Regions from separate parts of the Homo sapiens genome. Here region 2 is linked to region 1. A link means that fine-mapping ties the variant in region 1 to the expression of a gene that starts in the linked region. Tissue or cell type: prefrontal cortex. Region 1 holds a variant in brackets; the other region holds the start of a gene. All regions are shown on one strand. Distances are between the middles of the regions.

The links. PIP is the estimated chance that this variant, and not a neighbour inherited with it, causes the effect.
Region 2: MYF6 starts here. The variant in region 1 is fine-mapped to the expression of MYF6 in prefrontal cortex (GTEx, PIP above 0.99).

What each region holds. Positions count from the first base shown.
Region 1 is chr12:79,744,730-79,752,840 of GRCh38, forward strand. The region is part of intron 4 of PPP1R12A-AS2 (PPP1R12A antisense RNA 2); the gene reads left to right. Among named protein-coding and RNA genes, the nearest start is that of PAWR, 58 kb to the left of the region's middle. The variant C/T (reference allele first, on the strand shown) is at 3,537.
Region 2 is chr12:80,703,728-80,711,838 of GRCh38, forward strand. MYF6 (myogenic factor 6) reads left to right here and starts at 3,907. Exons shown (of 3, transcript NM_002469.3): 1 at 3,907-4,511; 2 at 4,797-4,887; 3 at 5,115-5,747. The coding sequence starts at 3,993. The coding sequence ends at 5,233. It overlaps LOC105369867 (a long non-coding RNA gene), which reads right to left and starts at 3,511. Exons shown (of 5, transcript XR_007063388.1): 1 at 3,382-3,511. RefSeq lists an enhancer at 3,707-4,616.

The sequences.
Region 1 (8,111 bases):
CTGACCTCAGGTGATCCACCTGACTCAGCCTCCTAAAGTGCTGGGATTACAGGAGTGAGCCACCATGCCTGGCTTACTTTGATTTTTTAATAGCACTTATCACTGCCCAATATTGCATCCTTTATTGATTTGTCAATATTCTATCTCCTTCACTAGGCTATATGTTAAGTCATCAAGCATAGGGATTTCACTTAGCTTACCACTGTTATCTCCAGTGCCTAGTACATAGTAGGTCGCAATAAATTATTTGGAAAAGGAAAGGAGAGAGCAAGGGGCTAGTTGGTGGGCTTTGAATACAATGTCCAATTATTCTGAAGGACACTGTCTTCCAGTCACACATGTTTACTCATTTCCCAGCTTACAAATAAACACTTCATGAATCCTTATCATCTTTTGCTTGATTCAATGGGACTATATTAAGTACTTAGCATGTAGATGGTATACTATTATGCATGAAGTAGAAACAAAAGAAATAAGTAGATATTCTTTCAGTCAACAAACATTTGTTGGGTACATCTTATTGTCAGGTGCTAGTCTAGGTGCTGGGAATATAGCAATGAATAAGACAGATATACTGTCACAGAGCTTGTAGTTCAACAGGGAGAGTTAGAATGAAGAATGATGAGCATATTACTTAAGGGAAAAGAGTAGGTACTCTAGTAGATGAAAGTTTATTAGAGGAAAGTTTGTTCAAACTCAGGCCTGAGAGATGAGTTGGCCAAACAGAAGAGGAAAGATGAAGAGTATCTCGGAACAAGGAAACAGAATGTGCAAAAGGAAGTGTGAGGAAATCAGAGAAGTTGTATATGGCGGAAAGCTGAAGTTCTCAGTCTTCCAGATGCTTACAATCCAGGTGGGGAGATAAGACATGGACATGTGAAACAGTTACATAAGAATGCAAGCAACACAGATGGAACTGAAGATCATTTTCTTAAGTGAAATAAGCCAGGTAAAAAAAAGACAAATATTGCATGTTCTCATTTATATGTAGCCGCTAAAAAATTGGATGAGATGGAGGTAGAAAGTAGAAAGAGAGATAACAGAGACTGGGAAGGATGAGAAGGGTTGGGGAGGAGGATGAAGGGACGTGTGTTAAAGGGTACAAACATGGTAAGATAGAAGGAATAAATTTAATGTTTGATAGCAGAGTAAAGTGACTATAATCAACAAAAATGTATTGAACTCGGGTGACAAACACCCCTAAATACCCTGACTTGATCACTATGTATTACATACATGTGACAAAATTTCACATGTACCCCATAAATTTGTACAAATAATAAATAAATAAATATGGGCCAGGCACAGTGGCTCACGCCTGTAATCCCAGCACTTCGGGAGGCTGAGGTAGAAGGACTGCTTAAGTCTAGGAGTCCAAGACCAGTCTCACAAAACTCCATCTCTACAAAAAAATATAAAAATTAGCCGGGTGTGGTGGTACACTTGTAGTCCCAGCTACTCAGGAGGGTGAGGCAGGGGAATCACTTGAGCCCAGGAGGCAGAGGTTGCAGTGAGCCAAGATCACACACCTCTGCACTCCAGCCTGGGTGACAGAGTGAAACCCCATCTCAAAAAAATAAAAATAAGTAAATATGAATGCAAGTACCTGTAAGAAAAAGATCACTGGTTATAGTACTGAGTGCAACAGATTGTGAGTCCTGTAGAAGAGAAAAGAGAGGACAGTGTGGGCTGAAGGTGCCTACATGTCCACAAGAAGCAGATAACATGCAGGCAGAATATGGAAAAGGTATCTGGAATGCGGCTAGATAAACAAAGGTAAGAAGCCTTCTAATCAGGAGAATCGAATCAGTATTTTGGAGAATAGGATGGGCTAGGACTGCTTAGAGTGTTAACATGGGAATGGAGGGAATAATAAAGTTTGATAGCAAGGTTACAAAAGGCGGCCCTTGAAAATAAGCCTGAAGAATTTAGACTTTATCTTGAGGAGGATTAGGAGAGAGTGAAAGTAAAATGTCGGTGAATAACTGACTCCATAACAAATACTTATTGATTACCCATTATATGCCAGGTACTACACTGTGCCAATACAGCAGTGAATAAAACACATCCCTGCCTTCATGGAGGTTATAAAGAAAACACGTTAGATGATAAAGATATGTAGGATAAACTGGGCAGGAAGATATGCCCTTACGAAGAGAAAGGGATGCACATGGAATACATTTGCAAAATAGGAAAAAAAGGAATTGGACAATGAATGAATACGGAGAACAAAGGCAAGACAAGAGTTTTGGGTCTTTGCTTTGCTTTACTTTCCTACTTGCCATTCTGTTTATCCTCACAATTGAGAAATTAGTCTGAATTTAAGACTTTTAAAGAATTGAGTGTTGACTGACACCTGTTTACTAGGCTATTAAAGTTTTTTATTTTTACAAACAGCTTTACAACAATCTAAATTATTTAAAACACAGATTCTCTCAGTCTCTCTGTTGTCTTATATGGGTGGCTTACCTAAACCAGTCAGAAACTGTGTAATAAGTAATTTGCAATAATGGTTGAAATAGAAACAGTGTATTGCACATAGTAGGCATTCAGTAAAAGTATCTGTAAATGAATGAATAAAGTTTTCTAATTATTTACTTTAATAAGTTAGAGCAGAATCAGGGTTTTCTGATAAGAATGTTTTTCTTACTTACCTGAGTTCTAATATACTTCCCTGAGTGTGTAGAGAAAAAGAAGGGTGGTGAGTAACATACTGCAGTTAGAAGGGGAATCTCCCATAATCTCCAGTTTGTCTTATCTATGCCAGAGGCCACCATTTAGTAGAAAACAATGGAATGTGATAGTCATCCAGTATGTGTTTCCAAGGGGGAAAAAGTATTTGAGATCTTCTGCCTTAAAAATCATCCTCAAATGTCATCATTCTACAAATCAGTTGTTTTCCTTTTTCCATATCCCTTTCTGATTTGCTCTAATGCATACATATTAGTTGTATATGTATAGTATATTCATTTTTATTTAATATTAAGCTGGAAATTTAAAATGAAACATTAAAGGTCATCTATGGCAGATTCTTCTACTATGTAAGGTAATCTGGTAGGTTTATAACCCAGGCATTTGGCAATGAGTTGTGGCTAATTGCCTTTGTATATGGTAGAGTTTCCTTGCTTCTTCTTTTATTTCTTTTTTTTTTTTTTGGGGGGGGGAAATGGAGTCTCACTCTGTTGCCCAGGCTGGAGTGCAGTGGTGTGATCTCGGCTCACTGCAAACTCTGCCCCCTGGGTTCAAGCAACTGTCTGCCTCAGCCTCCAGAGGAGCTGGGGTTACAGGCTACTGCCACCACACCCGGCTATTTTTTATTTTTATTTTTAGTAGAGACAAGGTTTCACCATCTTGGTCAGGCTGGTCTTGAACTCCTGACCTTGTGATCCACCTGCCTCGGCCTCCCAAAGTGCTGGGATTACAGGTGTGAGCCACTGTGCCTGGCCAGTTTCCTTGCTTCTTTAAACTTCTCCACCCCTGCAAAACCATCCTCCCTCACCCAACAGATAACCCGAAGATGACTCATGTTCTTCACA[C/T]ACAAACACACCTTTTACTTTAACTTACACACTTTCTACTCTCTGGGCTGCCTTCACTGCAGCCCACAGAGTAGAAAGTGTATAAGTTAATTTTCAACGCAGATTTCATTCACTGAGAAAAGTTTAATGAAAAAAGAATCGCTGGCTGTGGTGGCTAACGCTTGTAATCTCAACACTTTGGGAAGCTGAGGTAGGTGGACTGCTTGAGTCCAGGAGTTCAAGGCCGGCCTGGGCAACATGGTGAAACCCCATCTCTACAAAAAACGCTAAAGTTAGCCAGGCATGGTCGTGCATGCCTGTAGTCTCAGCTACTTGGGAGGCTGAGGCAGGAGCATCATTTGAGCCTGGGATGTGGAGGTGCAGTGAGCCGAGATCACACCATTCCATTCCAGCCTAGGTGACAGAGAGGGACCCTGTCTCCAAAAAAAAAAAAAAAAAAAAAAACCCAAAACCAATTACATTACAGAAAATTAGGAATATAAAGACAAAAAATTACCTATAAAGCTAATCATTAATATAAAAGATTGATTTTTAGTCCATCTGTTTTAGCCCTTTGTAAAGCTAGTTTTTAAATTATAAAAGTAATAAAGTAATACAGAGGTTTTGTTTTCAGTAATGGCACAATAGCTTATATTGGACTGTTTTCCACAGATAACAATTTTGGACCCTGGACAAAATTTTTTAAAAAACCAAAACACTGGAAAGTTACCAAAAGTAATCACAAAGTAAAAAAGACTCCACCCTGGTACTGTGGTTGGAATGTGTCCCCCAGATTTCATGCTTTGTAAACTTAATCCGCTAATTTATATGTTGATAGTATTTGAAGGTGAGGGTTTTGGGAGCTAATTAGGATTAGATAAAGTCATCAGGATGGGGCCCCTGTGATGGGGGAAGAGGAAGGGAGACCTGGGCTGGCACGCTCCTGCCCTCTCGCTATGTGATGCCCTCTGCCATTTTATGACACAGCATGAGGTCACAGCCAGATGCAGCTGCCTGATCTTGAATTTCCCAGCCTCTAGAATGATGAGTTAAATCAACCTCTTTTCTTTATAAATTGCCTAGTCTCAGGTATTCTGTTATAGCAACAGAAAATGGACTAATACACCTGGAAAGGAAGGGAACACCACTTAGTAAAATCCATGTTTAAACAGATTAATCCCCGAGGGCATTTTCCAATTAATGCTGTGGAAGTTAGAACTCAAGCTGAAGTCTGATTGGCTTTAAGTATGAAAGGACAGAGTTTGGGGTTGCCAGAACAGCTGGCAATTGAGGAGGAAAGTTCTGAAAATGAGAGCCGTGAAGACGGGATTTCCAAACCTGTGTATTAATTTTCCATCAAATCCTTGGATGATCTCTGAATTGCACATGCATGGTCTCAAAAAAAGTCCGTTGTAAAGTAACAGGTTAAAAGTGCTCAGCAGAGGCCAGGTGCAGTGGCTCACGTTTGTAATCCCAGCACTTTGGGAGGCTGAGGTGGGTGGATCACCTGAGGTCAGAAGTTCAAGATCAGCCTGGCCAACATGGTGCAACCCTGTCTCTACTACAAATACAAAAAATTAGATGGGTGTGGTGGCACATGCCTGTAATCCCACCTACTCAGGAGGCTGAGGCAAGAGAATCGCTTGAACCCAGGAGGCAGAGGTTGCATTGAGCTGAGATCACGCCATTGCCCTCTAGCCTGGGCGAAAAGAGTGAGACTCTGTCTCAAAAACAAACAAACAAAAATGCTGAGCAGAGATTTCAGTTGTTGCTCACCATAAGATAGATAGATTTTGGAGTTTGAAGGCTACAAAGTCAAAAAGGGGCTTAGTAAACACCTCAAGCTTTCAATAGAAACTTGAGAGGAGCCACACCTTTGAGTAAAGACTCTTTCCTAGGACTAAGGATTTATTCTAAAACTAAGGATAAAATTGAAATAGATACATCTTAAAATTATAAAAACCAAGCTTACACAAGTTCAAAGTCATTAGCCAAAAACTTGGCTGCCTGCTAGAATGAAAATCAGCATTCTTCAGAGGAAGATAATGTTTTATCCACAATGTCTAGTATAAAAAAATTAAACATGTAATGAAACAGGAAAATGTGACTCAAGATCAAGAGAAAGAGTAGTCAACACAAATAAATCCTGACATGACCTACATTAGCAAGAATTTTAAAGCAGTTATAAATATTTTCAAGGACTTAAAGGAAAATGTAGCCATAGTGAGTGAACAGGTGAAGGAATCTCAGGAGAGATTAAAAAAAGAACTAAAATGAAATTCTAGAACTGAAAAGTGTAATATCCGAAATTTAAAAAAATCTCTGCATGGGTCTACCACCAGAGTGAAGGTGGCAAAAGGGTCAGTGAATGTGAAGAGAAGTCAACAGAAAATGTCTAATCTGAAGAACAGAAAAGAACAGGATGAAGAAAAAACGAACAAAGCCTTAGTGAGCATTTGGACAATATTAAGTATTCTAATGTGCATGCAGTTGAAATCTATGGAGAGGAGAGAAATAATGTAATGGAGAAGAAGGAAAATTTGAAAAAGGTAATGACTGAAATTTTCTCAAATTTGGTGAAAATATCAACTAAAAATCCAAAAATCTCAGTGAATGCCTAGCATCCAAAAGACAAAGAAAACCGCAATATGTACTACCAAATATAAAGAGATGGTCTTAAAACAATGAAAGGAAAAAATTACATATAGGAAAACAATTAATTATAACTGAATTCTCATCAAAAACAATGGAGATCAGAAGACAATGGTATGACAAGTTTAAAAGGCCGAATACAAAAAGGGATACAAAAAGGAATACAAAAAGATGTCGAAGGCAAATGACATGGTATGACAATTTGGATCTACAGGAGCAAAAGGTAAACACAAAAGACCATCTATATTAGTTTCTTGTTGCTGCTGTAACAAATTACTACAAAGTTAGTGGCTTAAAACAAGACAAATTCATCTTATGACTCGAGGTCAGAATTCTGAAATGAGTCTGTCTTAGGCTAAAATTAAGGGGTTAGCAGAGCAGTGTTACTTCTGGAGGCTTTAGGGCAAAACAAATGTCCTTGCTTTCTCCAACTTTTAGAGGCCACCTGCATTCTTGCTCATAGTCCCATTTCTCTATCTTCAAAGCCACCAATGGCTTTGAAGTCAAGCCCTTTTCACGTTACCATTTGCATTGGTCCTCTACTGCATCCTTCTTTTCATTTTAAGGATCCTTATGATTACACTGAGACCTTCTGGGTAATTCAGAATGTCCTCCCTATCCTAACAGCAGTTGATTAGCAAGTGTAATTCTATCTGCTACCTTAATTTCCCTTTACCATAGGACCTAACATATTGAGAAATTCTAGAGATTAGGACCTGGACTTCTTATTGCACGGGGAGGGCATTATTCTGCCTACTACACCAATTTTTTTTCCTCTTAATTTCTTAAGTATAACTGTTATTGCACAAATCATAACATAGTATTTTGGCATTAATAAATAAGTAGATATAAAATGTATGATAGCAATAGCACAAGGGGTGAAAGGGGGTAAATAGGATAAACTGCTGTAAGTTTACATGAAGTGGTATCATATTAACTCGTAGCAGACTATATTAGGGATGCATATTATCATCCCTAGAGCAAAGTTTCTTAAATAGAGTTCTATGGAACCTAGGTTTCTGCAAGATGTTGCTAGTTTTGAATTACCTTCTCTAATCTTCTATTTCATGCCACACACTGACTTACGTTAGTGAACAAGCTCTGTCAGTGAAATAGCAAATAGGAAGTTTTCCTTCTAAAGAAGGAATTTTATTTGATAAGATTTACTTGCCCCCTGGCCACTCCACTGTTGTTATAAATGTTGAAAACATAAATTATGTAGGCTAGAAGTAAATTGCATTGTGAAAATTTTGGCATTTTTTTGTGATTTACACACTTAGTTATCATACCCTTTTGTTACGTATTTTATTAGAGTTTATGTTTTATAAAAATGCCTGATGATCTAGTATGGTGACTTTTGAAGAAGAGGTGTGAGAAGGATGAGAGGTATTTTAGGCCAACACTTATTTAAAATTCTAATATGTTAGTAATGAATAATTATAATCTTCAGAGTCATTTCATTACACAAGTGCAACAAAGGACATAAAGTCTGTCTTTACAATAATGCTCTTTATCAATAGGTTTTACATGGACTAGGAATCCAAGTTTTCCTATTCCATTGTGTATCATTGGCATTCACCAATTTCTAAATGTAACGGTAGTTCCACCAAAAATGAAAAGACACTTAAAAATTACTACCATTTGACGACCAGAGATGCTGATTACTTTATGTGGCAAGTTCAACCTCAAAACATAATGAAACTTTTACTTTTTTAAAAAAGTCACATTCTATGAAAAGTCTCAGCAATTTATTTAATAAGAGAACTTATTGCTCAGAAAAGGAAAAGTCACACATTTGGTGAGAACATAATAATGCATTATTCAAAATTGTAGTGAGTTAAAGGCTAGAACAAGATGCAGCATAAGAAATTGAAAAGTTCCATTCTCAAATAGTACAATAAGTTGACATACTGATAACATGTCTCATGATGGTAAAGAAATGTT
Region 2 (8,111 bases), 960 kb after region 1:
TATCTTGTTCCCCAGTAAACTGGAAATTTAATGAGGGTATAAATACATTAAGCTCTGCTACTAGAGCGACTAGTTTCAATATTTTCACCTTGATTAACACAAATCCCCAAATTTTTCAGAAACATCTTTCTCACCAAATCTAGGTTTTTCAGTGAATTCACTATGATTCTTTCCATCAGAGGCCTTACAAATTGAGTAGGAGAATTAATATTTGCTGAGTGCATATTTCATACCATGGGCTCAAAATATATTATTTAATTTAGTGTGAAAAGAAAGCCTATGATATGTGTAATGTATATGCTTTTTGATCTCTAATAAAACTGTGGCTAGAAACACATACTTAAGAATGGCTAGAACACAGATTCTGTCTTTCCCCAAAGGTCTCTTCTCTTTCTACCATATATGCAACATTTCCAAAGGCTCATAGCTAAAATCCACTGATGTGAGCTAGCCATAATACTTTCCTTCCCACTTCTTCCCACAGAAAAGAATTGGGAGGCACTCAGGCTTTTTTGGGGGGAAAAAATCATTTGCAAATGAATAAGCATGAAGTAAGAACAACAGGGTGGTAAACCACATGAAAACTTCCCATCCTGTCACTAATCTAGTTTCAGATTTTATGATGAATGAAGTCTAGTCCCCTTGGAGTGATTTTATTAATGATAATATTATTATTCCCCTATTATCATTTACTTTTTCCATAATTAAAAAAATATTTGGACTATTTAAAGCTTGGAGGATTGCAGTTTATGTAAAACTGATTTGACCACTTGTCAAGGTCTGTGTCTCCAAGTTCTACTGAGAAGTGATATAATTGCAATTACAGGCATCTCATATTTTGTAAACAGTTTGAGTTCCAAGAGTTCACTAGTTAGAAGTTTGGCATCAGTGCGTATTTTCCCATTGACCTAATCTAATAAAGGGTGATTATTTCCCAAGCTGGCATTTCCTTGTTTTCTCCTCCCACCTCCTGCCCTCAACTCCCAAAACAACCACAAAAAAGGGGAAAAATCTGTTTAAACCAGGGTAAACACTCCCACTAATTTTACTGGTCTGAGGTCTAGAGCGTGTTGGAAAAGGGGATTCATAATTTAATAAGGAAGAATTCAATAGGTGAAAGTTGACTTTATACCAGTAAAAGCCACCCTTGCCTAAGAAGTTGCTCCTGATCTGCACCCCAAAGCTTTATATACTTTTTTAAAAAAATAATTCTCTTTCTACATTTCTAAACTGGCTCTTTCTCCAGTGGTGACACTTGAATGAAAGAAACAGAAAAAGGAAAAGGCGAACTTCCATATTTTTTAGCGGGTTCATGATATGAAGGCTCTCTAACATCTATCTGATACCTCTTAAAATCAGTGGCAAGTCTAAGAATGGTAACACCTTAAATGTATTTCTTCACCCAGGCTTCAAAATTGCTTAGTAGTGATATTTTTCTCCCTTATTTTTCTCTGAACATACTAATTCCAATAATAAAAGTACTTTTAGAGAGGATGCTACATTTTTGAGGTGGGTTTCATGTTTTTAAAAGTTTAATTTTTATAACATCCTGTAAATATGGACATCTTTTGTCATTATGCCAATGTTACGGATTAAACATCTGAGAATTTGAGATAGTAGAGTTCATTAAATCCTCACAGGCCCCAAAAGACTATAATCTAGGCCTTCCCCATCCCAATTCCAAGGCTATTTCTCCCATTTGGTCTGTTAATTTAACTCACCTCTTTAGATTCAGACTCCATGAGAAGAGAGATTTTTTTTAATGCTTTATCCTTAGCACCTAGGACACTATCTGGCACTTAGTAGGTACCCAATAAATGCTGAATAAAAAAAATTAGTCATTTTTATCTTAATGTTCTTAATGATTTTTATCACAATAATCTTAGTTAACTTTTCAAATTGTCTTCACATTTACAAGAGACAACATAAAGTGTGGTTAAGAGCACAAGCTAATTTTCTATAATAGATGTTAGATTATACCCTGAGTTGCTGAAACTTTCAATCTGCAGTTTTAATTGCTGACTTGAGCAACCAAGAAACTGGCGAAAATAGAAAAAAAAAAGTCACAGAAGAAGTATTGGCCTCTTGCAACTCTTCTCTCTCCTTCTTACCATTCCAAAAATCTAAGAATAGTATTAAACTTGATAAGGAATAAAAACAGCCAAAAATATCAAAGCTTAACATCCAGTCTGTGGCTCAATAGAAACTGTGAAGAATCATCTTCTAGAATAGGCGACTTGATTAGCTAATTTCTAAATTATCTGACAGTTGATTTCCTGCATTATCTTCACTCTATTCATTTTTTAAAATAAAGTCATAAAGAACACAGCTTATAATCATTACTGCTTGGGGTAGAGCAATAAGATTTTATGTTCCCACATAGTTTTTGAGGCACTGACTATAAAGACCAAAACCAAGGTCAACTGACATCCCAAAGGCCAGTTACAGCTAGGAAGTCTTTCTAGAGCTCTAGGAGGAAAGGTGAAAGGAAGGGAAAGAACAACAAAACAGAGAGAGGGAAGAAAAAGAAAAACCTCTCCAACAGCTATGCTTTATTTCATTCATAGGAATGAGTCTTTGCCCTAACATGGCTTTATACTACAAATGATAACTACTGTTCATCAAGCAGCTATGTGCTATGTGTTTCACATGCATGGTATCATTTGATTGAATCCTCACTAAAACTGTAAGGAAACCACTATCATCTTGAAGACATCAAGATCTAGTACTTACCCATGGATATATACATAGAAATTAACCTTGCTAGGACTTGATAGTTCTTTGGAATCTAGGGCCCCCGCACTTGACCTTCATATTGTACTGTCTCCCGAAGAACAATACATGTATCTTGTGGACCATGGGCAAGCTGCAATTTAAAAAATGCTGTTTCCTTGCTCGTGCCTTGGTTGCTAACCTTTCTCACTTAAATCCTATCAAACAACTTATTTGGAGTCAATGGATAGTGAGAATGCAAAAGAAAAAGTGGTGAGCACACAGTGTGCAGAACTGGAATCATAAGAGAGGCACCTTGGAGGGGGCCACAAGTAAATGCTGAAATATCAAGTAGCTGTGGTGTGAGTCTTGTTTTCACTAAAACTATTTTTAAGGAGGAGTTACTACATGTATTGTAACCCCATCCTCTATCCCACTCCCTACCTCATATGTAATACTGCTCCACAAATGGAAGGGTACAGAATTCAGATCCTGGTTGCCCCTCTCCCCAAAGGAAAAAAAAAAAAAAAAGATAGTCAAGGACGGTCTCTATGGAAGGACCCAGAGAATCATTTCATCCAGTATCATGGGATGTGAGCACCCTTCAGCAACCCCCTCCATTTCCCAAATCATCTTGCAGCCTTAGTAAAAGAGAGGAAAGAGATTTACCTGCTTCTATTGAGGTTGAAGCCTGAAAGTCATGTATAACCTTTGAAGCACTGTAATGGTTTTAATCACAGGAATAGCATCTTTTTGAGAGGCAGGAGAGAGAAAGGAGCTGAACCACTCTGCAAATATTAACCCGGCTATTTTGGAGCAATGGCTATTGCCTTTGAAATCTTTCATCATGGGTCTATACTTAGAATTCAGATGAGCGCAGGGGGAGGGGAATAGGGCAATGTTAATCCCCAGTTGTTTTGAAGTTGTCCTGTAAGCAGGTTAGTATCTAAACTGCCCAAAATGGAAGGGTTCAATGCTTTGTTTAAGTTATGTGATTCTCTCTGTGTAACCTGGTCTGCACATAGATTGTCACAACACTCTGGGAGGTGACACTTCTCAGTTTTCTTTCAAACTAGATGTTCTAGAGAGCACTAGCTGCAATCACATTGGGAGACTGATGCTCCATGACAGCTAAAAGTTGGATTGAGTTTCAGGAGCTACTATATATAAAGCTGGGTCGACTTATGTCACTGCACTAATTAAATGCCATCTGGGTGGTTCCTCTGGGTTTTTGAGTCCATCACCCAGTTCAGATCGAGTCAGAGGCCAAGGAGGAGAACATGATGATGGACCTTTTTGAAACTGGCTCCTATTTCTTCTACTTGGATGGGGAAAATGTTACTCTGCAGCCATTAGAAGTGGCAGAAGGCTCTCCTTTGTATCCAGGGAGTGATGGTACCTTGTCCCCCTGCCAGGACCAAATGCCCCCGGAAGCGGGGAGCGACAGCAGCGGAGAGGAACATGTCCTGGCGCCCCCGGGCCTGCAGCCTCCACACTGCCCCGGCCAGTGTCTGATCTGGGCTTGCAAGACCTGCAAGAGAAAATCTGCCCCCACTGACCGGCGAAAAGCCGCCACCCTGCGCGAAAGGAGGAGGCTAAAGAAAATCAACGAGGCCTTCGAGGCACTGAAGCGGCGAACTGTGGCCAACCCCAACCAGAGGCTGCCCAAGGTGGAGATTCTGCGGAGCGCCATCAGCTATATTGAGCGGCTGCAGGACCTGCTGCACCGGCTGGATCAGCAGGAGAAGATGCAGGAGCTGGGGGTGGACCCCTTCAGCTACAGACCCAAACAAGAAAATGTAAGCCTAGATGCTGCCGGGGCAGGGAAATGCGAAGGCTGATTAAACGCCTTCCGCGGGGCCTTAACCTCCAGCTGCTTGGTCTTTTTTCCCTTCCCCCTTTCTCGCCCGCCCCTCCCGCTCCGTCTCTAATGAACCCCCAGTGACCCAAGAAGACCGGGTGCTTGCAATAGGCAGGAAATGCGTACCCGGCCCGAGGAAGCAGGAAAGCCGCCCCCCACCCCACCCCAACCCCGGAACCGATGTTTCTTTCCTAATCTGCCGCTGCCTTGGTTTTCCCTCCAGCTTGAGGGTGCGGATTTCCTGCGCACCTGCAGCTCCCAGTGGCCAAGTGTTTCCGATCATTCCAGGGGGCTCGTGATAACGGCTAAGGAAGGTAAAGTAAAAGGGCTCTGGGCCGCACCAGAGAAAATCCGGGAGGTGGATAGGATGCTTGGGCCGAGAGGGCTCGAAGCGAGAGCAGGGACGCGCCCTGCGAAAAGGGCGCTCTTTGCGCGCCGGGACCAGGCCTTTCCTCGCTGCCAAAGCGGCCTCGCGCGGGGCGCGGAGCTGCTTCGTGTTCCTTCTTTGGGTGCTATGTTTGTGTGTTGTTTTTTCGCTCAGGAGGAGCAAGTATTGATTCGTCAGCCTCGAGTAGCCTTCGATGCCTTTCTTCCATCGTGGACAGTATTTCCTCGGAGGAACGCAAACTCCCCTGCGTGGAGGAAGTGGTGGAGAAGTAACTGAGCCTGCGCTTGAGACCTTCTCCACGCAGCAGGAAGATCCCACCGACCCTTCCTGGCCTAATCCTTTAGATTAGGTCACATTACATTAACATTTAGGAACCCAGACCGAAAAGTTGCTGAAAGGGAAGGAGACACATTCACAAAGAAACGTTGCGAAAATTGCGAAATCTGTTGTGCATGCTCAAATGAAAACGCCTTTCGGCTTTGGGCTTTTATTTTTTTGGAACTGCGAGTGGCTTAGGTCTAGCCTCATTTTGTTTTTGTTTGGTTGGTTTTATACTATATTAACTTTTATTACGGTGATCCTTTTGTGCCATGTTCAAAAGAAGTTCATTCCTGTCTAAAGTGGGAAAGTTGCATTTAATGTTAGGGGTATTTAATGTATTTTTGTAAATAGTTTAACACTTTCTTTTTTTACGTAAACCTGAAATATATTTTAAATGTGGAATGATGTATATAAAATGTGCGAGGATCCTGGTATTGTAATATTAAAAAGAAGTTTCTATATGAACAAAGTTGGTCCTAATTTGATGGAACTGGAAAAATATGTTTGGAGGCATGTGTACAAAAATAAAGAGGAGCCATATTTTAATTTAGACACCACACAAGCCCATTTATTTGGGTGTTTCCTTACATGCCAATTGAAAGGAAATTTGGCTTTCCTTAGTCTGAATTAAACTGGATACTGTTCTCTCTCTCGTAGACCTCACACTTGTCATTGGAAGTGAATAGTGCCCAGAAGAAAAATGTCATTTTTCCTTTTATCAGCATCTTTTTCCGTCTGGTTTTACACTCCTATACCTGGAGATCTGGGTGAGATTTACTTACCCAAAGTTAACAATGGAATTTTCAATCTAGGAAAATATGGTTGCAAGAAATTACCACACCAAAACTGTGCTCATTTCCCAAAAAGATCTTCAGCGGATTTACCCACAAACGGCCTTCCCTCTTAGCCTTCCCAGGCCGCTCTTGTCCTGAAGTGTGGATCTGGAGTTCCCGGGGCTGCATCCGGCATCCTCAGGGCCGGATCTCGGGCCCCCTCCCCAGTTTTCTTGAACTAGACTGGTCCCTAGCAGACTGGAATATCCTCAAGGCCTCGTTTGGCTTGGGTTTGTTTTCCATATACGAAAGATAAAAGAAATGGGCAATCTGTCTCTGGAGGTGGGGTGGGCTGCTTTGAAGGGAGGGCGGCTTCAAGTGAGGGAAGGTTTCAATGGTTGAGGGCAAAAGACAACAACAACACACATGCAACCTCTTAGCCGAGCCAAACAGCAAAGCCCCAAAGAGGCTAGAAGCCCCAGGAGCTCCTCACCATGCGGATTTTACAACGTGTGCCAGGTTTGTTTATCCTGTAACCTCAGGAAGAAACGACCACCAAGAAACACAGTGGGAAGTGAGGCAGATGAGAGGAGGAAGCCATTTCTTTTGAATTGCGACTCCTCTCTTAGATTCTGTAAGTGGCACCTTCACTCCCTTCCCCCACCCCTGAACTTCTACCTTTCCTCCTCCTCCCCAACAGCTAGTCTTCAGTTAGCAGACGTGAAAATCAAATCGGATTCAGTATTTCCCAGCCCACCCTTTCCTTCCTAACCCTCCAAAGGCTGTACTTTCTTGTTGCGCACCTAAGTTCCAGATAGCACCACAGACAGTGCCCCCTGGAGGTACAGAGCTGTATCTTGCCCCTTTTTCCTCTCAGAAAGGAAAGCCTCTTCCTGGCGATAGTAGTCACTGCGTTTTCTGAGTATATGGGAAATTCAGATTTCTTCTGAAACAAATTTAAAAGGCAGAAAGGTTCATAGTGGAAGCTGACATTGACATACAATCTCTTTTAAAGGTTTGGGAGAGGTAGGTGGGAGATTTAGCTGAGCCTGTGTGGGGTTGGCTACCTAGATGGAATCCAGGCTGCCACTGTCTAGGGCTAGTCACTGCTCATTCTTAGTCCTGTTTCCTCCTGAGGTTGTGAAGATTCACTGAGATAACACATGTGAAGTGCTTAGCCAAAATGGCACAAAATAAACACTAGATGCCAGCTCTCTTCTTCATTAGTCAATTCAAAGACCCTTTTCTTCCATCAAAAGCCATAGTTTCTTCAGCCTTTCCTTGCTCTGGCTGGGGAAAATATTGACAACAATGAGAACAAAAGCAACATAAATGAGCCATTCTTAGTATTTAAATATTAACTCATAATCCTACAACAGATGAGAGAGGTACTGCGAAGATCCTTGGAACAGAGTTTCCTGCACTTGGTTAAGTACTGCATAGAGCCAGGATTCAGAGCCAGGCAATTATCAGTGGATTCAAGCCTGTGTTCTTAACCATCATGCTCTGTGAAACAGATGCCTTGGCACATTGTTAATTTCTTTCTTTCCTCCTTTTTTTTTTCTTTTTAAGGGGTGATGTGTCCCTGTTGCCCAGGCTTGAACTCCTGGATTCAAGTGATCCTCCAGCCTCAGCCTTTCAGGTAGCTGGGACTACAGGCCCATACCACTGAGCCCAGCTTGCCTTGGGAAATTAATAAGCAACATTTTATGGTCTGGGGAAAAATTTGGCTCTCCTTGGCGTTTGTTTTCTAAAAGCTCTCTCTCAAGAGTGGCTAGCTACCGAACTCCAAATTAGAGCAGTAACTTAAAAAAATAAGTGGTAAAGCATTTCAAATTATCCAACCAAAACATGTGTGAATATGTCTGGGTAGTGTCTATGCCCATTAATTATGCTTATTAGATGCCCATCATTTTCTCCCTGAGAATCAATAGGGATTTTCCCCAAATTGTATATATGCACACTTCTATTTTTAAAATTCAAATTTATTATGCAACACAAAATAATGTAACTGATTAGGTGAACTCATTTAATTTATAATTTAGCCTATACTTAT